4 linked regions of the Homo sapiens genome follow. The protein of the gene in region 1 purifies or fractionates together with the protein of each later gene. This does not show direct contact. Each region holds a gene or a part of one and is shown on either strand. Other genes may lie near its edges.

Region 1 (4,711 bases):
TTTCTGCCTGGATAATTGAGAGTTGACTAACTTTGGAAGTCAGAATTCCCAGGAATTAGAGTAACTGCTCTGGAAAGTTAAAGTGTGAAGTTTTTTAGATAGTTTCATAAAAACAATTCTGGTTTCTTTTTGCTTGTGCTGACTTTCTTGGATTTTAATCTACCTCATCTTGTCTTTTTAGAGTTACTTCAACTTGTCACTTTAACATTGTGCTTGACTTTGGTTGTTTTCTAAGATGGAATTTTTCCTGTTCATTGACAGCTTGTTCTCTTGCCTTTTCATTCTGATCCTCATTTCATCTAACATCATCTCATATTGCTCCTCTGTCAAGAGAAATGTTTTAAAATAGTTTAAAGTCTTGTTTTATGGGAAGAAAGTGATCCTCCAATGCTATTTGTTTCTGAGGTCAGTAAGAGAAGGAGTTAAAACAAGGCAGTGGGGAAGGGAATGAATCCTGCACTGGAGGCAAAAGCTGACAAGGAAAGAGCCATTAATTAAGACAATTTCAAAGTCAACTGATTGTGATCATTAATGTCACAATAGATCAAAACCTAATTATCACAGCCTAGGTAAGAGCCATCAGTATTAATCGGAAAATCTAATAGGAAACTATTATCAAGAAATTAGGCCAAATTGAATGCAGTGAACTTTTTATCTTGGCATTCTCTATTTTTTTGTGATGTCCCCTGGCATTGGCAGGTGTGACCCTAACAGTCGATTCAAGGCCAAGTGGTCAGTTTGTCAGCCTTTTTTAAGGGATTTCTTTTTATTTTTAGGAATTCCAAACAGAGTTAACCTAAACTGTCATTGCCAAAAGATCAGTCTTAAACTTTCTTAGCACCTGTACCTGTTTAATGTGATCAGCTATCAGTGAGGAAAAAAAAAAAAATCTATTTAGGTCTTGGAATGGTTCCTGTACCTAGAGTATCCATATTGAACCTTTTTTTTTTTTTTTTTTTTTTTTTTTTGAGATGGAAACTTGCTCTTTTGCCCAGGCTGGAGTGCAGTGGCGTGATCTTGGCTCACTGCAACCTCCGCCTCCCGGGTTCAAGCAGTTCTCTGCCTCAGCCTCCTGAGCAGCTGGGATTATAGGCGCCTGCCACCATGCCCGGCTAATTTTTGTATTTTTAGTAGAGACAGGGTTCACCATCTTGGCCGTGCTGGTCTTGAACTCCTGACCTTGTGATCCGCCTGCCTCGGCCACTCAAAGTGCTGGGATTGCAGGCGTGAGCCAGCACCCGGCCACAGTATCTTTATTACAGCTCACTGCAGCCTCAATCTCCTGGGCTCAAATGATCCTCCTGCCTCAGCCTCCCAAGCAGCTGGGACTACAGGCGCACACCACGGTGTCTGGCTAATTTTATTATTTAAAAAATGTTTTGTAGAGACAGTCTCCCTGTGTTGCCCAGGCTGGTCTCCAACTCGTGAGCTCAAGTGATCCACGTGCCTCAGCCTCCCAAAGTGCTGGGATTACAAGCATAAGCCACCGCACCCGGCCCCTAGTGAACATTTTACTGTATGTGTTGATAAATCATCTTTTGAGTTTCTGTTGTATGTGGGGACTTCCTACACTGGCTGCTGTGAAGAGGTATGGAAGAAAGGAGAGGCTTTCTGCCTAGAAATTCTTTGAGAACACCTGAAAAGACAGTTTAATCATGTCACAACACTCTTAAGGCTCAAGTCAGTGTTCTGGTTTCCGGTAGCTTTAGGATTGGATTCTAAACGAGGGCTGGTGGTGAGTTTGGTGTTTGTCTCGTGTCACCCTCACCCCTCACCTCCTCAGTTTAGGATAAGAGACATAATGATTTCTACCAGAATCCAAAGTAAATCCAAAGGGGGAGAAAAGACATAACTGTTTTTTCTTCTACCTTTTTTTTGTTAAAGAGTTACATCTCTCACAGGAGGAAAGAATTCAAGAGTCTATATGATTAGTTACAGAGAATATTTTCATCCCCTCTCCCTGAATAGAAAAGCAGGGGTCACCATTTGTATCCTTACCCTTGAGGTGTTTTTGAAGATGCTGTAACTCTTGAAGTTGAGCTGAGGCAGAAAGGTTGGAAAAATGCAGCCCTCTGGGTATTGTGGGGAGGGATGTGATGTAGTAAGAGGGTGTTTTGTGGTGCTAGGATTCCCACGCCACCAACTTGCAGCTTTATAAGAGCGCTACCAAGAACCACCACTGGGGAAAAGGTTCTTATTCATTGTTTCTGTTGGAATGTGATCTTGCTTTCTGGATTTTAGGAATTCAGGTTACTCAGTATAAAACTCTGAGAAATCAGTGTGACTTAGTCCTTCACCTCCTAAGATAAAGTGAATATTTCTTTACAAAATAATTCATGTCCTTAATGTTAAAGATGTAATTTTATTTTCAAAACATCTATAACATGACTTTCAGAAGCAGTTCATTTTTCCAAGATTCCTCACATTATACTAGATAAATAATAGGCCCTCAGTTAATACCCTTCAGTTATTGAATTAATCTAGTTTGTGGAATGAGGTGTATCCTGCCAACTTCCCTCTGCTCCCAAGTACACTCTGAGAGGTAAAATGCTCTGGGAAATGGAACAAGAATCGAGTGGATGCTGACTCTGTGTGCCCACCTCCTCAACTGATTGATAATGGTTGACCTTGGGCAAGTCACTTCTTTCAATGCCTCAGTTCCCCATCTGTCAAATGGGGTTAATAATACTGACCTACCTCACAGGGGTGTTGTTGTGAGGCATTGTAAATCAAAGTTAATAGAATACTTCAGGGTCCTCTGTGGAGGATGTCTTGAGCCAGAGTTTAAGCCTGACACACAGGCTTTGGTCCTCACTGAGCTGTCTCCAAGACTGGAACTACTTAGTGACTCGGCAAATTTTCTGCCCCCCACCCCTCATCAAAGCTGCTAGTTCAGATGTTGACAGTGTTTTCATGAATGTTGGAATCTTACTAGTCCAGACTTACTTAGGATGTTGTTGGGGAAGGCACTTGGGATTTTCTGTGTCTTGCATTCACAGAGGGAGGCCATTTCAGATTCAAGAGCATTGGATTAGGGAATCGTGAGGCAGGGATGCTACTGCGTATTTCTCTCTGCAGGTTGGGGATTAAAGTTCCTTTCCCCATGGGTTTGAAGCAGACTCAGACTGTCTCAGGATCAAAGCAACCCTCAATGGTTTTGATTTATGTCATTGCTTACCACTCCCCAACCAATCCCAGGACAGCTGGGTCACTGTACCCCTTTGTGGTATCTGTACCTGGGCCTCTCCTTCCTCATAGGGACCAGCTGATTGAATAAATGTGACCACCTTATTTCCACCCCCCACCCCCAAAAGCTACATTGGAATTATTTTTCCTAGAAATGTGTATAACACTCAGAATTGGGCATTGATCCTTAAAGCTTCATCCCATTCACCGTATTCAACATCTGTCATCTCTTAGTGTCTGCAGTCTGAACCTAACCTTGACCTTTTTTCCCTCTGGTTTGAGAAAACTTTGGACACTATTTCTACTTGGCCAGGTGTGGGCTCAAGAGCCTTACTCTTTCCATCTCAGTTTAGGGGCGCAGCCAGCTCCTCTTCCCAATAGGGCTCTTTCTGCTTTCCCTCTCCTTGGCCCTAGATTTGTAATCCATGAAAAAGCACAAGGTCCTGGCTCCTTGCGGTCACATTCTGGTTCTCTGTGTTTTGTGGACTCTGCTCTCACTGTTCACCCAGCACTAGCAGTACCAGATGGTTCTGTGGAGTCCTGGGGAATGGAGAGAGCACAGTCTGACTCCCTGCCAAGTAGCCAGGAGTTGACTTGCCCATGGTCCGCTGGCTTTCCCACCACTTCCTACAGGATGGGATCTAAGAGACTCAAGAGCTGGGTTTCTTTCAGCACTCTGTACTGTCCCAAATAGCAAACAAATCACTTTGTAGCCAGATTTCTGAATGGAAATGAGAAATTGAATTCTCCATGGACTTTTAGGTTTATGGGGGAGTTTTAGCTGTGTTTCTTGGTTTTATTTCAGCCAAACATGTCTGCTTTTGATTTTTTTTTTAAAGTATAAGTGGTCTATATATATGTTCACCTTTTAAATGTAAATGTTTAAAAAGTAAGCATTTATGTGTTTCCATAACTGACATCTGATGCAGACCTCATTCTCTCCCCCTCTTCTACCCTCCTCTTTTCCCCCTTTTCATACTCTTGTATTGGTTCTAATAAATGGTTGCTTTTCAAATATGGATTCTGAGTGGTGGTTTAAAGATCTGGGTCTTATGCCCCTTCTTTAATTTGGGCCCTGGAGTGTCAGCTCAATTTCTGAAAGAGCAACAAGACTTGGAGAACATGGGCTTCTTTTCTAAGGATTATTGGTCTCTGACTTTCTGCAAATAACCACAGGTTGGCGCAAGCCTGAGGAAATAAGATAATGCGTATCCTGTTTCCTACTCTTATTTCCTTAACTGGTTCAGTGTGTACCTTTCCTGGTTTCCATGCTCTTCTCTGCTCCTAATGGTTCAGAGAATAAATATTAGGCTTCAGCAACCTAGGGATCCCTGGAAGAGTCATCTCATGGCTATTAGAACTTATGGAATACCACATCAAGCAAATGCAGTCTAAATCAGGTTTGAAAATATGTGAATTTGTAAACTTTGTATTTTATCTTTCTGATTTGCTTCACAAATACCAAAGAAACTTCTCTGAGGATGGAAGGCTTGCAGGTCAGGAACATGGTGTGAGGTCAGTTGGA
Region 2 (7,528 bases), on another chromosome or scaffold:
CAGGGCCAGGCTGGTTTCTATGCTCACCACTCCTGCTTTTTTTTTTCTTCAACCAGCAGAGCAGGTGACCATAGTTCTTGGGCAGCCTGCTTGAAACAAAGTGCCCTCTGCTGCTCTTTTCATGAAGAGTGTAGCAGGATTGATTGAGGCTGGCTTTGCACTTACACGGTAAACTGGCCATATGAGAACTTAGCTGCTCTGCCGGCCAGCACCAGGCTCCCAGTTGCCTTTCACTCGCTCACTGGCGCTCAACTAGCATTGATTGAGTGCCTGCAATGCAGCAGTCAGTGCCCATCTGCCACCCCTGGCAGCTGTGTGGACCTAGACTGCCCTTCAGCAAAGTCTGCTGCTCTGCCTGAGAGGAAAGGAAGAGCCCCATGCCCACCAGCAAAGGCTTCTGGGGCCTGGGCATCCTCTCCTCCCTCCAAAACTGGGGCTAGTGAATGGTTAAAAAAAAAAATTAAGAAAATATTAATGGACTTGATTCTAATTTTTATATTTGATTTTTATTTTTCAGTCCTATTTAAAAAAATGTCTAAAACTCGGAAATAAGGCAAAAAAGAGTGATTGCATGGCTGTGTCATGTCTGACAAGCTCCGATTATTTAACAGTTGACCCACATTTGTGCCCACACTGTGACATCACATGTTTCCTTACGGATTTTTGCCCAGTAGAGATGTGAGTGATTTCTATAACATGGCCTCAAAGGTGGCAGTTGTGCTTCCCTGTAGGATCCTAACCACTTTTGTTTCTAACTGGCCATTTGACTCCACTTTTTCTAGTGGCTGCACGTACTCAGCTTTATGAACCTTCTGAACTAGCTTCATCCTCCTCTGGATTCCCTCATGAATGAGTTAAATAAATCCTCTGAGATTGAGACCGTCCTGGCCAACATGGTGAAACCCTATCTCTACCAAAAATACAAAAATTAGCTGGGCGTGGTGGCAAGTGCCTGTAGTCCCAGCTACTCATGAGGCTGAGGCAGGAGAATCACTTGAACCCGGGAGGTGGAGGTTGCAGTGAGTAGAGATCGCACCACTGCACTCCAGCCTGCCGACAGAGCAAGACTCCGTCTCAAAAAAAAATACAAAATAAAATAAATCCTCTGATATGTGTTCACTTTATATTCGTGTGAGTCATGTGTTTAACTTTTGAGAACTATACTTTGACATTCCCCAAAGCCCAGCAACAGAGCTAGATACTCAGGAGGAATTCCATTTTATCATACTTCCCATTAAGTAACTTATTTTAGTTCCCATTATTTTGCATTATTATAAATTAAGTAGAAATAGCAGAATAATTTGTCCTTTTTTATTATAAAGTAGCTAAGTTGATTATATTAGATCTAAATTATAAGCTGGACTGCTTTTATTATTTCTCTTACAGGAAGCACTTAATAATTTATTTCTAATTTTTATTATGTTCCTTGTAATACATATTAATGCAGCAATTTGAATGGAAAAATTAAGTCTGACTTTCTGACAGAAAGCCAGTCTGATTTTGGCTGCTTCATTTGACAACATGATTCTGTGTAGGTTTTGAATATGTGCAGATACTCAGCACTGTTATTCTTTATACACAGAAGACAAATGACAAAGTCCAGTGCCATCTCAGCTAATGAGTTTGCAGCTCCTCAAAGGCTGTCAGGCTGCCACTTTCTACTGCAATTGTAGTTCACCTGCCTCTACCCATTCCCTGATTCAAGTCTGGTCCCTGGAACATAGTATAGGTTGAGAAAACATCAAAATAAACTGTTGAGAAGTATATGTTCAATAGATCCTTAAGTGAAATTTTGAAAGTCCATAAGGGTCTGGTTTTAGTACAGGATTTTATGAGAGTTATTTCTGCTTTCTTTGGTTACTTTAAAGTTTAGTGCAATATACTGGGAACCTTTCAAAAGGCCAAATTGGGAGTTTATTTGCATTATTCATCTTGAACTATTTAATATTCTATAACTACAATAGCTTTTTTAACATGATTTCAATTCAGAATAATAGCAGAGGGTGTTTTGGTTTTTGTTATTTCGTCACCAAGAGTTGCCTTCTGCTAGAGTTTTGTTCAGTGTTCAATTGGAATAGGTCTCTTGGGATCATCAACTCATTCTGACACTTCAGGAAAAAACAACTGAAGCAGCCATTCAAATTAGGTCCTGCAGCCACAACGAACCTGTTTCATATTAAGAGTCAGGATCTCAAAAAGTTCTCAATCAGTAAATCTTTGCTATTCAGAGAAAATAAAAGATCCTCTCATTTCTGCATTTAACATTTACAGTTTACAAACTGTTTTCATTGGCTCTTTTAAAAGCTTGTAACTAGGTGGATACTTTTTAAAGAAATCTATTAAATTTAATGAATCAATTTTGCTGCAAAAACAAAACTTAGAAAAATCCTAAAATATTTAATATTGATATTTGAATCCTAGAAATCAGAATCATTCCGGAAATTAACACAGGATCCTAAATTTTGCATGAAAGGGAGGTAGAGCCAGGCGCTGTGGCTCACGCCTGTAATCCCAGCACTTTGGGAGGCTGAGACGGGCGGATCACGAGGTCAGGAGATCGAGACCATCCTGGCTAACACGGTGAAACCCCGTCTCTACTAAAAAAATACAAAAAAATTAGCCGGGCGTGGTGGCGGGAGCCTGTAGTCCCAGCTACTCGGGAGACTGAGGCAGGAGAATGGCATGAACCCGGGAGGCGGAGCTTGCAGTAAGCCGAGATGGCGCCACTGCACTCTAGCCTGGGCGACAGAGCGAGACTCTGTCTCAAAAAAAAAAAAAAAAAAAAAAGAAAAGAAAAGAAAAGAAAAAAATGTAAACACAATATAGCAACTTTTGTGATACAGCAAAAGCAATGCTAAAGGGGGAGTTTATAGCTATAAATACATCAAAAACCAAGAAAATCTCAAATTAACAACCTAACTTTACAACTTAATGAACTATAAAAAGAAAAACTAAATCCAAAGCTGGCAAAAAGAAGGAAATAATAAAGATTAAAGCCAAGATAAATGAAATAGAAAATAGAAAACGATAGAGAAAATCAATGAAACCAAAAATTGGTTCTTTGAAAATGTCAAAGCATTATTCACAATATCTTGAATAGGGAAGCAAGCCAAGTGTCCATCAACAGGTGAGTGGATAAGCAAAATGTGGCATATCCATACAATGGGATAGTATTCAGTGTTAAAAAGGAAGGAAATTCCACAATGTGCTACAACATGGATGAACCTTGAGGATGTTCTGCTAAGTAAAATAAGTCAGTCACAAGACAAATACTGTATGATTCCACTCTTATGAGTAGTCAGACTCAGAGACACAGGAAGTAAGATGGTGACTGCCAGAAAGTAGAAGGTAGAGGGGAACCGAGAGTTAACATGTAATGCATAGTTTGTTTTTCAAGATGAAAGAGGTACAGAGATGGATGGTGGTGTTATGAATATACTTACCACCACTGAGCTGTACACGTAAAGATAGTTAAGACGGTAAATTCTATGGATTTTATTTTTATTTTTTTGAGACAGAGTCTCACTCTCTCCCCCAGGCTGGAGTGCAGTGGCGCGATCTCGCTGTAACCTCCGCCTCCCCGGTTCTATGGGATTCTCCTGCCTCAGCCTCCCTAGTAGCTGGGGTTACACGCGCCCGCCACCACGCCTGGCTAATATTGTATTTTTAGCAGAGACAAGGTTTCACCAGGTTGGACAGGCTGGTCTCGAACTCCTGACCTCAGATGATTCACCTGCCTAGGCCTCTCAAAGTGCTGGGATTACAAGCGTGAGCCACCGCGCCCGGCCATTCTATAGTTCATTTTCACCACAAAAACAAAAATGAAATTCACAACAAGCAAAACTTCAGAAGGGTACAAAGGTAGAGAGCAGTGTGAGCTAATTTTACAGTCTTTCAAAGCATACAGACTGATGGCATCAGCATTAGAGGTGCATGCATTTTAATTAGAATTGTGGTGGTAACATTCATAAAACTGAAAACAAAAAACGAAGAAGATAACTTCTGGGAATCGGGACTTTCAGTGGAGGCGGGGTGATGAGAAAAGGAATATTTACTGTCATCCAACAACTTTGTCTTGTACTTTTGTCATAGGTATTATGCCAGTAATATCCCTGAGAATGTATGGGGCAGGTCTAGCTCTTTTTTTCCTAATAAATTCATTCACACAACAATCAAAACAGCAAGAAAAGGAAGAGATATCCGCACGGCGGCGGCAGGCCGGGGCCGTTCCAAGGGCCTGGCCGGAGGCCACAGGCCAGACGCGGCGGAACCCTCCCGGAGCCGCGCCCGGGCGCGCGCGGGAAGCGGAGGCGGAGTGGGCACGTGCGGCACTTCCGGGGCGGGGCGGGCACGCAGCCCTTCCGAAGGCCCGCGCGAGCCGCTAGTTTTGCCCACGCACTTTTGGCACAGCCGCGCCACGCGATCGGCGATCTGATTGGCCCGCGCGGGAGGGCGCGCGGCGCCAAACTTGCTTCCCGTCAGCCCCCGCCCGTCCCGCGGGAGCGCGCACGCTCGCGCACCCGGATCCCGGCTCCTGCATCCAGTCGCCATTCGGGAGGCCGCTGCGCTGCAGGGCCTCGCGGAGCCGCCCGCGACCGCGAGCCGGGCCCTCCGCGCGGTCCATCGCCCACTGGACGCCGCCCGCGGCCGGACCGGTGAGGAGCGAGAGCGAGCGGGGGAGGGGCGTGGTTGGGGCCTGCATCCCCGAGCCCCGTGTCGGCCGCCGACCTGGCGGGGACGGTCCCGGGAAGCCGCGGGTCCGAGTGAAGGGGGCCTGCGCTGCCTCGCTTCCCACACGGCCCGAGGGAAGGGCCCGCCCCCACAGGCCGGGGCGGGAGTGCGTCTTTGTGCAGGGAGCGGGGAGGCCCGGTGTCAGTCGCTGCCGAGGCTGGAAACATTGCGTTTGAAACCATTGGGAAGTTGAGGGCGGCACAAGACGAAAGCCATTCTTTCTGTTTTAGTTCTAGACTGCCTCCTCTTCTGTCATTATTACTGTTTAAAAATCCGCTATACAGCCTCCAAAGTGGGAGAGGACATTTGTAAACCTGATAAAGAGTTAATGTCTAGAATACAAGAAGAGATGCAACTGACCAACAAAAAGCAACCCAGTTCAAGAATGGGCAAGGAATTTGAATAGATATTTCTCCAGAGAAGAGAGACAAATGGCCAATAAGCACGTGCAGTGATGCTCAACATCACTAACCATTAAGGAAATGCAGATGAAAACCACAATGAGATACCACCTCACACCTGTTAGGGTGGCTATTAAAAAAAAGGGAAATTATGAGTGTTGGGGATGTGGAGAAATTGAAGCTCGGGTGCATTGCTGGTGGGAAAGTAGGGTGGTGCAGCAGCTATGGAAATTGGTAGTCGTTCCTCAGTTCTAGGTTTATACCCCCAAAAATTGACAGCAGAGACTCAGATACTTGTTCACAAATGTTCATCGCAGCATTATTCAAAATCCAGATGTCTATCAACATGTGGATGAAAGGCAAGCTGTGGTATATACATATAATGAATGGACCATTGTTCATCTTTAGAAAGGAATGAAATTCTGATACATGCTGCAATATAAACGAACACATTATACAGTATAAACGAGCACATTGAACACATTATGTTGAGTGAAATAAGACACAAAAAAGACATACTGTATGATTCCCCCTCAGGCACAGAATTGAGATTACCAGCACTGAAAGTGGAGAGTGGAAGTTACTGTTTCATGGGTACAGAATTTCTGTTTGTGGTGAAGAAGTTCTGGAAGTGGATAGTGGTGATGTTTGCACAACGTTTTAGTACTAAACTAACTAAATTGTGCTTTTAAAAATGATTAAATGGCAAGTTTTGTTTTTTTTTTTTTTTTTGAGACGGGAGTTTCGCTCTCGTTGCCCAGGCTGGAGTGCAATGGCCCGACCTTGGCTCACTGCAACCTCCGCCCCCTGGGTTCAAGGGATTCTTTTGCCTCATTCTCCCAAGTAGCTGGCATTACAGGCGCTTGCCACCACACCTGGCTAATTTTGTATTTTTAGTAGAGATAGGGTTTCTCCATGTTGGTCAGGCTGGTTTCGAACTCCTGACCTCAGGTGATCCACCCGCCTCGGCCTTCCAAAGTGCTGAAATTACAGGCATGAACCACCATGTCCGGCCTAAATGGCAAGTTTTTTGTTTTTATTTTTGTTTTTGTTTTTTAATGAGCCAGAGTTTCACTTTTGTTGCCTGGGCTGGAGTGCAGTTATGCGATCTTGGCCCACTGCAGCCTCCGTCTCTCGGATTTAAGCGATTCTCCTGCCTCAGCCTCCCAAGTAGCTGGGATTACAGGCGCCTGCCACCACACCCGGCTAATTTTGTATTTTTAGTAGAGACGAGGTTTCTCCACGTTGGTTAGGCTGCTCTCTGACTTTCAACCTTAGGTGATCCGCCCACCTTGGCCTCCCAAAGTGCTGGGATTACAGGCGTGAGCCTGTGGTGGCGCGCGCCTGTAGTCCCAGCTACTGGGGAGGCTGAGGCAGGAGAATCGCTTGAACCTGGGAGGTGGAGATTGCAGTGAGCCGAGATTGCGCCATTACACTCCAGCCTGGGTGACAGAGCGAGACTCCCTCTCAAAAAAAAATAAATAAATAAAAATGACTCCTTGTGTAAACTATAGACTACTTAATAAATCAGTATTAGCTTATCATTGTAGCAGATATCTCACACTAATGCAAGATGTTAATACAGGTGAAGTATCCTTCATTCGAAATGCTTGGAACCAGAAGTGCTTTGGATTTTTTTTTTTTTTTTTGGATTTTGGAATAGTTGCATTGTACTTACTGGTTAAACATCCGTAATCTGAAATCTAAAATGCTCCTTTTGGCACTCAAAAAGTTTTGGATGTTGGAGCATAATCAGATTTCAGATTTTCAGATTAGGGATGCTCAGCCTGTAGTAGGAAAAACTGGGGACAAGAAGATAGGTGGGAATTCTTGTACATTCCCTTCAGTTTTTCTTCAAACATAAAACTACTTGGAAAATTAGTTTATTAATTTCTTTCTTTTTTGGGTTGGGGGTGAGTATGGAGTCTTACTCTGTTGCCCAGCTGGAGTGCAGTGGCTCAGTCTTGGGTCACTGCAACCTCCGTCTCCCGGGTTCAAGCGATTCTCCTGCCTCAGCCTCCCAGGTAGCTGGGATTATAGGTATGCACCACCACGCCCAGCTAATTTTTGTATTTTTAGTAGAGACAGGGTTTCACCATGTTGGCTGTTGGCCAGGCTGGTCACGAACTCCTGTCCTCAAATGATCCGCCTGCCTTGGCCTCCCAAAGTGTTGGGATTACAGGTGTGAGCCACTGCGCCCGCCCAGTTTATTAATTTCTTAAAGGCCAGGCATGGTAGCTCACACCTGTAATCCCAGCACTTTGAGAGGCCAAGGCAACAAGATCTCTGGAGGCCAGGAGTTCAGGACCAGCCTGGACAACATAGTGAGACCTCATCGCTACAGAAAAAAAAAATTAGCCAGATGTGGTGGCAGGTACCTATGGTCCCAGCTACTT
Region 3 (7,030 bases), about 48 Mb from region 1:
TCTCACTCCAATGCCTAGGCTGGAGTGCAATGGCACAATCTAGGCTCATTGCAGCCTCCTAAGTAGCTGGAACTACAGGTGCACGCCACCAGAACTGGCTAATTTTTGTATTTTTTGTAGACATGGGGTTTTGCCATGTTGCCCGAGCTAGTCTTGAACTCCTGGACTCAAGCAATCAGCTCTTTTAAATGCTGAGATTAGCCACTGTGTCTGCCTCTCTGAGAACTTTCTTTTCTTGTCTTTTTTGAGGTGAGTCTCGCTCTGTCGCCAGACTGGAGTGCAGTGGTGCGATCTCGGCTCACTGCAACCTCCGCCTCCCGGGTTCAAGCGATTCTGGAGAACTTTCTTATGCCAATCAGCAATCTCTCTCCTGATATGCAGAATGGCATTCATTTGATTACACATGTGCTCCTACTTGAAACTGAAAGCTCCTTGAAAACAGATACCATGCTTTGTCTTTTTATCCCTGGGCACATCATTGCTTAGTACATAATACCTGAAGGCTTATTAGTGTACCATTTCTTCCCCGATTATACTCAGCGTACGAGACAACAGACACGTCTTTTTTTTTTTTTGAGACAGAGTCTCACTCTGTTGCACAGGCTGGAGTGCCGTAGCACGATCTCAGCTCACTGAAATCTCTACCTCCCGACTTCAAGCGATTCTCCTGCATCAGCCTCCCAAAGTGCTGGGATTACAGGCGTGAGCCACCGCACCTGGCCCACACAGGCACTTTTTAGCCCAGAAAAAAGAACCAGGCCAGGCATGGTGGCTCATGCCTATAATCCCAGCAATCTGGGTGGCCAAGGCAGGTGGATCACTTCGAGGTCAGGAGTTTGAGACCAGCCTAGCCAACATGGTGAAACCCCATCTCTACTAAAAATCCAAAAAAAACAGCTGGGTGTGGTGGCAGGCGCCTGTAATCTCAGCTACTCAGGAGGCTGAGGCGGGAGAATCACTTAAACCCAGGACACAGAGGTTGTAGTGAGCAGAGGCTGCATCACTGCATTCCAGCCTGGGCGACAGAGATTCTGCCTCAAAAAAAAAAAAAAAAAAAAAACAACCAGCAGCCCACTGACTAATAGCTCTACATCTTCAGAGATGCAATTCAATCCCACCTCTATATCTTTCCTGAATACTCCAATCTGCAGTGTTCCCCAAACAAACCCCTCTGCACTAGTGTGTCACTGATTGGACACATAGTCACCTACAGCTCATGTACAGTTAGTTAACTTTCAATTCTGTGTGTCTTCAACCCTAATGTGTAAGTTACTTGGGAGCAAAGCCTTCCATAGAATGAAGAAAGTGAGAACAGTGCGCTGGATGGACAGACTCCCTCTGCTGCAGGACGTTACGCACTTTCAAGTTTGTCACTTAAGCAATATATTCCTCCCCAACCGCTCACCTTAAACCTTCGAGCTAGAAATTTATTCTTGATCTCTAAGAAATTGCCACGGTTCATTTCACCCTTGAAAGGCTCATTGAGGATGGCATAGCGTGGGTCATTCTGGATGTCTTGCCACCGGGCATAGCCATGGCTATTGGAAAAGTGCTCAGGAAAAACAAAACAAGGAAAGTAAGAACCTCAAACTAAAAGACCTTCAGAACCTTTCACCAAAAGCCTCAGTACAGATTCAGGCAAAGGATACTTTATAATGCCGGCTAGCAGCCAGTAGTCATGCCGTCGATGCCAGATCTCATAAGTCTTCTTGGTAACTGTGGCTGCCCGCTCTTCATTCTGCCAAAGGGAGTGCAACTCTGAGGAGGAATTTAGGGAAGGTTGGGGGTGGGGGGAAGCAAACATCTGTGAGAATTGAAAAAGCTACTTATTCTTGTCCCCCACCATCCCCTACCCCTGGATCCATTTCATATAATTTGCTTCTGGCTTTCTCCACAGAACCCACTATCAGTTTGGCATTCCCTCATCAAACAGAGGTAAAGAGGTAAAGTCCCTGTACCGTGGTTTCTGACAAGAACCCCAATTTCACATCAGATCCTTCTAACCCTGGTGGGCCCCTCATTTCCATACCAGTAAAACCACCATCTGCAATGTTAAACATGAAACGTTGTTTAATATTTTTCTTCTGTTTCTCATCATTCAGGTCCTTGGGGGTCTCTCCATTCTGAAGCATCACCTCTTTTTTCTCTTCTTCTTCTTTCTTCTCTTCTACAGAATATGGGGAAGAAAAATGTCAGCTCCAGCCAAAGCCCAGCACCATCGCCCTTACCCAGAACACTGTATGCTACAAGAATCCATCCACCTACACCCCTTCTCCACCTGGGTGTCTCTCAGACCCAGAAAATGGTGCCATTGGCCCACTGACAACTAAATGTGGGGACAGGTACAGTCTTTTATCTTGGGATAAAATGGCTAGATGAGTATGGACAGGGAGGCAGGGCAGATACAGTCCTTGCTTCTGGTTTTAGAGTTCTTCTGAACCACAATCAACTTCTCCAAACACCCACCTTTGTCTTCTACCACAATAGGGGTCAGATCTATTGCTGACTTTTCCTCCACCTTCTCTACATCAGCAGCACCTAGGGGAAGAAATGTTATTGAGACTATACCTAAAGGAAGAACATTCTCCTCTGTTGCACACTATTATCCAATTGGATAGACCCACATCTAAATGTCTGCAATTACAGTAATGTCAGCTGGGCATGGTGGCTCATGCCTGTAATCCCAGCATCTTGGGAGACAGCAGCAGGCAGATCACTTGAGGTCAGGAGTTCAAGACCAGCCTGGCCAACAAGGTGAACCCCAATCTCTATTAAAAATACAAAAATTAGCTGGGTGCGGTGGCTCATGCCTGTAATCCCAGCACTTGGGGAGGCCAAGGTGGGTGGATCACCTGAGGTGAGGAGTTAGAAACCAGCCTGGCCAACATGGTGAAACCCTGTCTCTACTAAAAGTACAAAAATTAGCCAGGCGTGGTGGCTCACACCTGTAATCCCAGCACTATGGGAGGCCGAGATGGGTGGATCTCTTGAGGTCAGGAGTTCATGACCAGCCTGGCCAACATGGTGAAACCCCATCTCTACTAAAATACAAAAATTAGCCGGGCGTGGTGGCGCATGCCTGTAATCCCAGCTACTCAGGAGGCTGAGGCAGGAGAATTGTTTGAACCCAGGAGGTGGAGGTTGCAGTGAGCCAAGATCACACCACTGCACTGCACATCAGCCTGGGCGACGGAGCAAGACTCCATCTCAAAAAAAAAAAAAACAACAACAAAAAAAACAATTAGCCAGGCATGGTGGCTACTCAGCAGACTGAGGCAGGAGAATCACTTGAACCCAGGAGGCGGAGGTTGCAGTGAGCCAAGATCGTGCCACTGCACTCCAGCCTGGGTGACAGAGTAAGACTCCGTCTCAAAAAAAAAAAAAAAAAAAATTTTGGCCAGGCGTGGTGGCTCACGCCTGTAATCCCCGCACTTTGGGAGGCCAAAGCGGGCGGATCACGAGGTCAGGAGGTGGAGACCATCCTAGCTAACACGGTGAAACCCCGTCTCTACTAAAAATACAAAAAATTAGCCGGGCATGGTGGCAGGCGCCTGTAGTCCCAGCTACTCAGGAGGCTGAGGCAGGAGAATGGTGTGAACCCGGGAGGCGGAGTTTGCAGTGAGCCGAGATGGCGCCACTGCACTCAAGCCTGGGCGACAAAGCGAGACTCCGTCTCAAAAAAAAAAAAAAAAAAAAAATTACGTGGGCATGGTTGTGGCACGCCTGCAATCCCAGCTACTCAGAGGCTGAGGCAGGAGAATCGCTTGAACCCAGGAGGCGGGAGTTGCAGTGAGCAGAGATCGTGCCACTGCACTCCTGCCTGGGTGACAGAGTGAGACTCCATCTCGAAAACAACAACAACAACAACAACAACAACAAATAAAGTCATAAGAGATACCTTAAGTTAGGGGAAAACCTGCCACCTAAAATCAAGGGTGCAGGATTCTTCAGTGTGTCGCTTCCTCCTGATATCTCTACAGCCCCAGCAAAAATTCACGAGTGACCATGGTTCACACAGGGATCTGTAGTGCTTAATATGGATACCGGCCAGGCATGGTAGCTCACGCCTGTAATCCCAGCACCTTGAGAGGCCAAGGCAGGTGGATCACCTGAGGTTAGGAGTTGGAGACTGGCCTGACCAATATGGAGAAACCCCCTCTCTACTAAAAAATACAAAATTAGCTGAGCATGGTGGTACATGCCTGTAATCCCAGCTACTCAGGAGGCTGAGGCAGGAGAATCGCTTGAACTCAGGAGGCGGAGGTTGCAGTAAGCCGAGATCGCACCATTGCACTCCAGCCTGGGCAACGAGTAAAACTCCTTTGAAAAAAAAAAAAAAAAAAAAAAAGCCAGGCACAGTGGCTCATGCCTGTAATCCCAGCAATCTGGGAGGCAAAAGCAGGTGGATCATGAGGTCAGGAGATTTAGACCAGCCTGGCCAACATGGTGAAACCCTGTCTCTACTAAAAATACAAAAATTAGCTGGGCATGATGGCGTCTGTCTGTAATCCCAGCTCCTCGGGAGGGTGAGGCAGGAGAATCGCTCGAACCTGGGAGGTGGAGGTTGCAGTAAGCCAAGATCGCGCCACAGCACTCCAGCCTGGCGGCAGCACTACACTGTCTCAAAACAAACAAACAAACAAAAAAAATGTGGATACCTTTACCTTTGGGCTCTGTCTCCATAGGTTCCTCTGTTCTCTCCTTCACCTCTGCCTTTTCCACTTTCTCCTCTCCCTCAGGGGGTTCAACAACGACCTTTTCATCCTCTGAGGCAGGGGCAGGGGCCTGTGTACACTTCAAAGGAAAAAAAAACAAAAACAAAACAGATGAAGCAGACAGGCCAGCAACTAAAAGGAAGACTGGACTTACACATTTGTCTTTAGTATGGCATTCAGTCACCCCATCTCTTACCTCAATGGCAGTCTCAGGGGCTGTAGATTTAACCTCCTTTTCTCCTTCTATGCTCTCTTCTTCTTTGAGGCTATTTTCCTCTATTTTTATCCCATCTTCTGCAGAACAATAAAAGACAATCAATTAGGAAGAAGGTACTAGATCAGAGAGAAGGTCATTTCTTCCCAGTTTGTCTCATCTTAAATTGTCCTCTCGTGCCTTTAAGAGCCAGCCCTATTCTTAGGACGGCCCTCCTAAACTGAGAGGGAATTGCTGTGTGTCCTGCCAGACTACCCTGTTAGAACTGAGCACAGGGGAGCAGAAAAATAGGCCAGGACAAAAAGAGAGGGACAGAAAATGATAGGACAGGCAGACTTACCAGCAGGTGGGACAGGTGCAGGAGTGTTGGGCTGCGTGTCCCCTGGAGTGGAGGGTGTAGGAGTTTTTGGGGAGGGTGACCCTGGCTGGGACATCTTCTTGTTTTCCTCCACCTCAGCCAGTTCAGGCATGCTCCAGCGCCCATTAACATGTTCAAACTCCTGAACCTGTAGCAATGGGACAAGAAGTTGAAGACCCAATTCCAGCTACAGGCTCCTTTCCTATTGGCCTTCCAGTCTCCGCCTCCCGGGTTCAAGCAATTCTCCTGCCTCAGCCTTCTGAGTAGCTGGGAATACAGGTGCCCGCCACCACGTGCAGCTAATTTTTGTATTTTTAGTAGAGATGGGGTTTCGCCATGTTGACCAGGCTAGTCTCTAACTCCTGACCTCAAGTGATCCACCCGCCTCAGCCTCCCAAAGTGCTGGGATTACAGGTGTGAGCCACTGCGCCTGGCCCCCTAGAAACAATGGCAAGAGGCTCAGGGCTCACCTTCTTGCGAATCAAAGACATAACACCAATTCTAGTAAGGACATGCTGGCGAGACAGGCCTTCTCGGGGGACACCATCAGCAAAGGTCTCAGCCCCATCTGCCCCCGGCTCACATAAATGCCGCATGAAAAGAGAGACATATGCCCTGTGTAAAGAAGTAGAGAAAGAGTTAAATAGGGATCATGCTGACTCTTAGATTCTTTTCCATCCCTTCGTGAGGCATTATCACAGGCAATAACTATGGCTCCACCTTGAGGTAAAGCCCACCACTGCACGGGAAGGCTGATCTCTAGACCCCACAAGAAGACCCAGGTTCTCTTCCAGGGAAGCTAGGAACACATTACTAACAGCTTCACCTGCCAACTTCAACAGAGAAAATAGCCCACTTCCCTGCACGGCTAGGCCTAGAACCATGGAATGACCAGATAGATAGCAGAAGCCCTTGCTCTAGATCAGTCCACTCCAGCCCTCAACTCACTTGAACTCTTTCTCTGATTTGCCTCGCAGGTCTCTTACAAGCCACTGGGTAGTAAAAGCATCCTGAGGTGGCATACCATATCGCATAATTGCATTAAGAAAGGCTTTTCGCTGACGAGCATTAAAACCAAGTACCTAGGGGAAGAAGAAACCCAGGTGAGAGGCAGCAGGTCGCATTCCACCAAAGATGCAATATCTGACACTCACCCCTCCTTAGAATCGTATGGCACTTACTTCAATATTCCCACCAACACGGGCCAACAGAGGAGGCAATGGCTTATCTTTATCATTCCGCAGGCCCTTACGACTGGGCCTACGGGGAGCTGCAAGAAGAAAAAGATGAATGAGTGACACAGGTAGGATATTAAACAAAGCAACATTTAGAAAAGCAACAAAAAAAGCACAGCCCTCACCTTCTGAACGTTCATCAAAGTCTTCATCACCTTCCTCTGAAGCCACTGAGTAATCGGACTGGTTGTCGGACTGGTCGTCCTGCCAATCTGGAGGGAGAGAGGGCAGATGAGCGGGGCCCACTGCTCTAGTGGAACGGCCCATGGGTGGGGGGCGGGGCCGGCCACACACACCTCGGTCCTCCTGGGAGCCATCATTGTAGTTGACCTGTTTACGGATTCTTTTTCCTTTGCCCAGATTTCGGGCTAGATCTTCTTGCTGCTGCTCATAATGGTGCCGCAGCAATTTCTCCCAGTAGTCAGGATCCACACTTTCTTCCTGTTTAATGATTTCCCGTTCTACCTCCTCTTCCTCCTGGGACAGAGGGAGGGCCAGGACTCAGGAG
Region 4 (7,030 bases), on another chromosome or scaffold:
GGACGACTCCCCTCAGCTGAGCGAGGAACTCCGGCGGGCAGTGGAGAAGAAAAAGTGCTCCTTGTGCTCTTTCCAGTCGTTCAGCAAGAAGGGCATCGTGTCCCATTACATGAAACGCCACCCAGGGGTGTTCCCAAAGAAGCAGCACGCCAGCAAGTTGGGGGGCTACTTCACGGCCGTCTATGCAGATGAGCATGAGAAGCCCACACTGATGGAAGAAGAGGAGAGAGGCAACTTTGAGAAAGCCGAGGTGGAGGGTGAAGCTCAGGAAATCGAGTGGCTCCCATTCCGCTGCATCAAATGCTTCAAGCTGTCCTTTAGCACTGCAGAGCTGCTGTGCATGCATTACACTGACCACCACAGTCGGGACCTAAAGAGGGACTTCATCATTCTGGGCAACGGCCCCCGCTTGCAGAACTCCACCTACCAGTGTAAGCACTGTGATAGCAAACTGCAAAGCACAGCCGAGCTGACCTCACACTTGAACATTCACAATGAGGAATTCCAGAAGCGTGCCAAACGTCAGGAGAGGAGGAAACAGCTTTTGAGCAAGCAGAAATATGCAGATGGTGCTTTTGCAGATTTCAAACAAGAGAGGGTAAGGATATGTTTTGATTTCCCTTCCCCCAGGAGGCCTCTCATCACTGGTGCCCACATGCACTTCTTCGTTGCCAGCCAAACTGCTGCAGGCTTCCTAGTGACTTAGCTTGCCAGAGAGCTCAATAAGTCAATTAAACATTTCGAGCTTGATTATCTCCCATTCTGTGCTCACCCCTCTCCTTGGTCCCTTCTCCTCCCTCCTTCCCTTTGACTCCTCCCATGGCTCCCCAGGGGAGGTTTGGGGTGGTTTCTATGTATGTCTTTCTGCCAAGTAGCTTTATCTGAAGCCTAGTTTTACAACAACGCTCGCTCTTTCCTAAGGCAGTGTGGGCTGTCTCTTGGTACCATTAGCACTTCTCAGCCATGTCTTGGTCTTCAGTGTTTGCTACATGAACCTAACGTCTCCAGGAGTAGATTTTATTTTATCAAGAAGTTCATTAATGGCGCAACTATGCAACGTTTCACCTGCCTAGTTGAAACTGGTTTGAAAACCAGATGACTTAGTGGCAGTGACGATGAGCTTCTGCACAGAAATCTTCTCTACTCACAAGCCGTAATGTATTTGGGTTTCAAAGACTTTGCATAGTAGGCAGCGTGCCATGATGCTGACAAATTTGTTATATAAAAATACTCGCCTATATCTCCCTTGGTTTTTAACCTGCTAATCGGCTTTAAAATAAAGTATGTTAGTAAACTGCAAGAATAAATTCTGACAATTGAGGGAGGGCTCGGAGTACTGATGGCTACCACTGTATTTTACCAGCCTTTTGGTCACTTAGAAGAGGTGCCAAAGATCAAGGAGAGGAAAGTGGTGGGCTACAAATGTAAATTCTGTGTGGAAGTGCACCCAACGCTCCGAGCCATCTGCAATCACCTCCGAAAGCACGTCCAGTATGGCAATGTCCCAGCTGTGTCAGCTGCTGTGAAGGTGAGAACTGGAAGGTCTGGATGAGCATTGTGTGTGAGCGATTCGAGTTACTTATTAACCCCATTGCCTAAAGCAGCTCAGGAAAGAGCATCTCAGAATGCGGGCATTCCTGAATTATGCTTGGATTGGTTTGGCTTGTTTTGATTTCTTTGCAGGTTGGACCTTCCTCATCTTTCTGTTCAGGGAAAGGTCGAGTTTCGATCTGGTTTCCTTCCACGCGGATAGTTTGGTGGCAGCAGAAGGTCCAGGATTCTCGGTCTAGGAGGCTTCGGGTCGTCCTTCTATTCTGCGTTTAGTGCCATTAGCTCTTCGTTCTTCCAAGTTGCCCGAGCTCTTGAGAGGAATCAAGTGGGTTCTGTTCCCATCATCTTCTGCTCCTCTTTCTTCCTGACTTCTTACTGTTCTCATCTGGCTGAGGATGCAGAGAGCCTAGGAGAATCTCTTTGTCTTCTTATCCTGGGTCCTCTGGGGACTGCAAGAGACATTAAAACTAAAAGCGTTCAAGTCGCAATTGACCCTGAAAGCCTTGGTTTGTCTCCTCCATCCCCTCTCCCATATGATGCTGACAAGTGTCTTCCCTTTTCCCTCTGACTTTTATTAGGCCACCTGTTTTGAACATCATAATCCTAATAGCAGCCACCATGTCAGTAACCAAGCCACCATCCCCGTCTTCCAGGATATTGCTAAGCCCTATTATTTATTAAAACAGAAGTCATTTTGGGGTTCTGCCCTTTCTCTAAGGGTACACGCGAACATATTTTTGTCATCTGCCCTTCTTGAGCTTACATCCTATTTTGCCAATTTAACATGAAGATAAAGTCTCTACTTTTCTTCACTGAAGACTGAAGCTTTCTGTCTTTTGGCAGAACAGTGGCAACCCAGGGATATCAGCAGTCACTTTCTTTCAGACACCACTGCGGTGTGTCCCAGGCTCGTTTCCTGGGATCATGTGAGAGAGACAGAAGGGCTTTTCCTGTGTAATCAGTAACCCAAGGAGCTATCTCGAAAAACAGGTGACTTAAAACTAGGCTGCTCCTTAATTTTTTGAATTGATTATGCAGCAGTCTCCAGTCATAGAGTGAAGTCACCATCTACAGGGTAGGGGGCAGACAGCGGGATCTTTTGCTTTGCTTCCTTTCCAGATAATGGCCCAAGGCTCCTCAATGACCATACTACTTTGCTTTTCTTTCTCTTCCTTTCTTCCTCTCCTTTCTGTGAGCCACAACCCTAGCCCAACTTTATGTCAACTTAGATGGGGTTGCAGTTTGAATTTTCTTTTAAGATGGGGAAGAAGTGAGTGAAGTGTCTTCAGAGTGGGAGAAGCCCTTGTTCACATTTCGCAAACAGTAGCAACCTGTGTCCGGGTATGTTGTCCTAAAATCACCTCCACTGCATGAAGAATGGCAGTTGGGCTTGCTCTCCCTCTAGGGGTAGCTGGAGAGGCAGGGGAGGAAGCTTTGACAAGAAGTGCTGTTGAGTTTGGGAGAATGTAGGGAGAAAAAGAAAGCTGGAGGCAATGATGATGGATATTTATTTTGTTGGTGGGGCATGTGTGTGTGTGTGGTTCTCTTAGCAGGAGGCGGATGACCCTGCCCACTTGTTCCTGGATGGATTGGAAGCAGCCAAAGACGCCAGTGGCGCCCTGGTGGGCCGGGTGGATGGTGAACACTGCTTGCTTGATGGAATGTTGGAGGATGAAACCCGGCCGGGGGGATACCATTGCAGTCAATGTGACAGAGTCCTGATGTCCATGCAGGGGCTGCGTTCTCATGAGAGGAGCCACCTGGCCCTGGCCATGTTTACCCGCGAGGACAAGTACAGCTGCCAGTATTGCTCGTTTGTTTCTGCTTTCAGGCACAAGTAAGTGCTATTGGGGGGTCACTAGTGGTTACTGGGAGATGATGTCATAGTGGAAGGCACTAAGCTAAAGCAGAAGCTTGGATGAGTAAGAAGGCCCCACTCATGGTTCACACCTGCTGCTATGTTACCTGGAGCCTCAGTCACCTTTTCTGTAAAATGGGGCTGAGAACAGGAGATTGATCGGATGGCGTTAGATTTGGCAAATGCAGGCATTTTAAAAATGAGAATTGGAGGAATTGCTATGATTTACCCAAAGGTAAAATGGCATCTGTGGAGAGTAGATGAGTCTCCTGATTCATCGTTCAAACATTCAGCCAAAATCTAGTCATTGTTTGAGGAAGTAAAGTCCATTTAGAAAACTGAGTTGCTAAAGAGGTAAAATTAGGACTATTAACCCATGTGACCAAAGAAACATTGCTTGCAATTTTTCAAAAGATCTTGAAAGGTAAAGAAGTTCATGGATGCCAAAGAGTTGCTTGACATACAGGGAGATTGAGGAGAGGGAGCTTCCCATTACTCATCACAGCTTTGAAAGTGTAAATATGGAATAGGTGTGTAAGGCTTTTTGGGGCCATGGAAAGAGGGGTGGTTTTAAGAACAACTTTTTGTTGCCTTTCTCTTTCAGCCGTGTAAAAGAGAGATAAATATTCAATAATGCGTTTGGACAGTCTTGGATAAAGGTGACTAAGACTGACATGCTTTTTAAAACAATTTTTTTAATGAAATAAATGATGGACTATTTGCTTCTTACAAAAGATAAAGGGCCAGTTAGTGGTTGTTGAACAGAAGAAGGAGGTGGTGTTTTCACAGAGGTTAGGATGGGTTGTAAACACTTTATTATTATACAGAGCCTAATATCTAATCTTTGTCATCAGATCCATACATTGGCATAAAACTTGAAATACTTCAATTCAAGAAGTATTTATTGAACAGCATCTATCACATTGTCTGACGCACAGTGGAACTTTAAATAATTGTGAATAAATGAATATATCCTGTCCTAGGTACTGTACTTTTGGGAAATATAAAGACACAGGCCATGGTCTGTGGCCAGGGGAATTTAGGGTCAAGGGTTGGTTTATGAAATTAAAAAAAAACAAAACAAAACCCACTGACTCATCAAAATAAAGCACGTCTTTGAAAATATCAGTAAAATACTATGATGTGTCAAAGAAGAGAAATGTTACATCAGCTTTGGAAGAGTCAGGAAGGTTTTATGGCATAAGGAGCATTTGGGTGAAGTCTTAAAGTAGGAAAATAGGACTTGAATAGTTTGGAAAGGACATATGATGTAGAGGAAAAGCTGAGGGAGGAGACCATGAAGCTGACTGGGGCCCTAGCTGGGGGTTCAGTTTGACTAATCCTTAAGTTACATGTAAAGGAATAGTGAAAGATAAGGTCTAAATACTTTAAAGGAGACCATATTTGGAGTTTTAAATGCCAGGAAATAGTATTTCATAATTTAAATTGCTGGTAAAAGGAAGAGTCAAATTAGCAAAATAATTATAATTGCTAACATTTATTGCATCTCACTATATACCAGGCACTGTACTAAGGGCCTTTAAATATTACTTAATTTCATTCTCAAAACTCTCCTATAAGGTATGGCCCCATTATTATCATCTTATGAATAAGAAGAGTAAAGCCTAGAAAAATTAAGTAATTTGCCCAAGGACACACAGCCTATATGTAATGGCTGAGATTTTATCCCAGGTAGTCTGACTCCATAGCGTGTGCTCTTGAGATGAAAAAAAAAAAAAAAAAATCCATGGGGGCTGGGGGACAAGGAATTAAGAAGCAATAATAGTAGCTAGTTCAAGAAGTTAGGGAATGATTGAAGGAATGGATTTGCCTGACTTGGAAAAATTGACTTCATGCGTGGGATGAGGGACAAAGTAAAATACAAATGGCAACTAGGTTTTCAGTTTACTCATCTGGAAGAAAGGTTAGTGCCATTTATAGAAACAAGGAAATGAAGAAGAGAATTTGTTTTGTAGAAAACTCTCTGATGGGTTTGTTTAGAACAGGTTGAGTTAAAGAGAACTAAAGGACACCCAGAGGGAGCTGTCCAGGGGCAATTGAAAATGTTGCTTTGGAGCTCAGGACAGCATTATATGTTGAAATGGTAAGCAGTACCGTTCCCACATGAGGCATTTAGAAGGGAATTTAGTTCTCTGGAGTGCTGATACAAATTAGAACTTCCCACACCTTGTTTGGTAGATTTATTATTTTTTTAGGCTAATAATTATTATGAAGTACTAGGGGTTCGTTGTAATTAAATAACTCCCTTGTAAATTGCTTCTGGAAGACTTACAGCAAACATGGTTGTGTGTATCAGAAGGGATGTGCGGCCTTTTGACCACGTGGCTCCTTTAAACATGCATGCACTGTGCCTCCATATTAATATAGACCCTGGCAACAAGACAGCCCATTGCAAGAAGGTCAGCCACTTCGAAACCTCCCTTCCTCACTCTAGTGTTCACAATGAAAGTAGAATTAGAATTCAAAAAGAAAGTCAGCTCTTTTCAAATGCTAAATTTCTCTAATTCCCATTCTGTTATTTGAATAAGTTAGAGGACTAATTGATAGGCACTCTCACTGGCTTGGCAGGAAGCTTGAATTCACCCATATTGTACCTTCTCTTTAGATACACTCTTCCAATGATCAGAGCTCTAAGAAGGGACAATAAAGATTCTTACCATGACCTGTTACCACTGCCATATCTCTAAATCCAAAAAAAACTCTTGATCTCTTCCTTTAGCTTCCTGTCCTCTTAGAGTAGGTACAACTCTTGAAAATTAATTAATTAAATTGATAAATGCCATTATTGGAAAGTAAACAAAAGGACTTTGAACGACCTAGAAGTAGGATTCCTGGAAAAAAAGCAATGAGCAAATCCTCTATGCAATTTTTAATTTTGTCATTTTTCTTTTTGTTTTCCTTCTACATCAAGTTTGGATCGCCATATGCAAACCCACCACGGACACCATAAACCATTCCGATGCAAACTCTGCTCCTTCAAGTCCTCCTATAACAGCCGGCTGAAAACACATATACTCAAAGCTCATGCTGGTGAGTTGTGCATTGATGATGCACAAGTTCTTTAGCACTCTCTGAGTTTGAAACCTGATGATCTTTATTGAGTGAAATACTGTCCTGCCTTACACTTGAGAATGTTATTCTTGGGATGGATGTATATTCAGTTTTATTTTTACCTAGTAAAGAAAAAATAAAGAAAAAAGTAAAAGTTAAACAAAATCACCTAAATCCAAAATAATACAAAGCCTATGTCACCCATGTTATGGTTAGTTCGTTCGTCCTACTGACAAGTTAGAATTAGACTGTTGGTGATTTTTACAGAAATTTCTAAACTGCCTATACTTTCTAATTCAATTGCCAAGAATTGTTATATCTATTAAAAAGACTTTCCAGCTAAAATAAAGTTACCAACTTAAGGAAGTTAGAAAGGGCAAAGGGAACTCAAGATGTGTGAGATTTTTCAAGAGATACCCTTAGATATGTTTCCGTACATAAGACAGAAATGACTTTGGGTTGTGAGTGTCCAGCAGCTGTGCTGGTCTCTATCATATTGTTGTTCCATCTCATTACTCATTAGAAAAAATTGGAAATGAAAGAAGAAAT

The links.
Region 2: the proteins of CBX5 (region 1) and CHAMP1 purify together in Homo sapiens (affinity purification with mass spectrometry; 6 studies listed by BioGRID and IntAct, with this or other methods). This does not show direct contact.
Region 3: the proteins of CBX5 (region 1) and CHD4 purify together in Homo sapiens (affinity purification with mass spectrometry; 5 studies listed by BioGRID and IntAct, with this or other methods). This does not show direct contact.
Region 4: the proteins of CBX5 (region 1) and ZNF462 purify together in Homo sapiens (affinity purification with mass spectrometry; 4 studies listed by BioGRID and IntAct, with this or other methods). This does not show direct contact.

Annotation. Positions count from the first base shown.
Region 1 is NC_000012.12:54,230,436-54,235,146, reverse strand, and holds the end of CBX5 (chromobox protein homolog 5), read left to right. Parts: 3' UTR 1-4,205; downstream 4,206-4,711. UniProt on the Homo sapiens protein: Component of heterochromatin that recognizes and binds histone H3 tails methylated at 'Lys-9' (H3K9me), leading to epigenetic repression. In contrast, it is excluded from chromatin when 'Tyr-41' of histone H3 is phosphorylated (H3Y41ph).
Region 2 is NC_000013.11:114,309,989-114,317,516, forward strand, and holds the start of CHAMP1 (chromosome alignment-maintaining phosphoprotein 1), read left to right. Parts: upstream 1-4,514; 5' UTR 4,515-4,655; intron 4,656-7,528. UniProt on the Homo sapiens protein: Required for proper alignment of chromosomes at metaphase and their accurate segregation during mitosis. Involved in the maintenance of spindle microtubules attachment to the kinetochore during sister chromatid biorientation.
Region 3 is NC_000012.12:6,576,380-6,583,409, forward strand, and holds part of CHD4 (chromodomain-helicase-DNA-binding protein 4), read right to left. Parts: exon of another isoform or gene 7,000-7,030; coding exon 6,819-6,999; exon of another isoform or gene 6,735-6,818; coding exon 6,648-6,734; exon of another isoform or gene 6,558-6,647; coding exon 6,469-6,557; exon of another isoform or gene 6,370-6,468; coding exon 6,236-6,369; intron 5,903-6,235; coding exon 5,758-5,902; intron 5,436-5,757; coding exon 5,270-5,435; intron 5,231-5,269; exon of another isoform or gene 5,094-5,230; intron 5,010-5,093; coding exon 4,912-5,009; intron 4,795-4,911; coding exon 4,665-4,794; coding exon of another isoform or gene 4,659-4,664; intron 2,539-4,658; coding exon 2,467-2,538; intron 2,343-2,466; exon of another isoform or gene 2,174-2,342; intron 2,168-2,173; coding exon 2,030-2,167; intron 1,759-2,029; coding exon 1,650-1,758; intron 1,539-1,649; coding exon 1,406-1,538; intron 1-1,405. UniProt on the Homo sapiens protein: ATP-dependent chromatin-remodeling factor that binds and distorts nucleosomal DNA. Acts as a component of the histone deacetylase NuRD complex which participates in the remodeling of chromatin.
Region 4 is NC_000009.12:106,929,162-106,936,191, forward strand, and holds part of ZNF462 (zinc finger protein 462), read left to right. Parts: coding exon 1-598; intron 599-1,363; coding exon 1,364-1,528; intron 1,529-3,101; coding exon of another isoform or gene 3,102-3,284; coding exon 3,285-3,388; intron 3,389-6,341; coding exon 6,342-6,460; intron 6,461-7,030. UniProt on the Homo sapiens protein: Zinc finger nuclear factor involved in transcription by regulating chromatin structure and organization. Involved in the pluripotency and differentiation of embryonic stem cells by regulating SOX2, POU5F1/OCT4, and NANOG.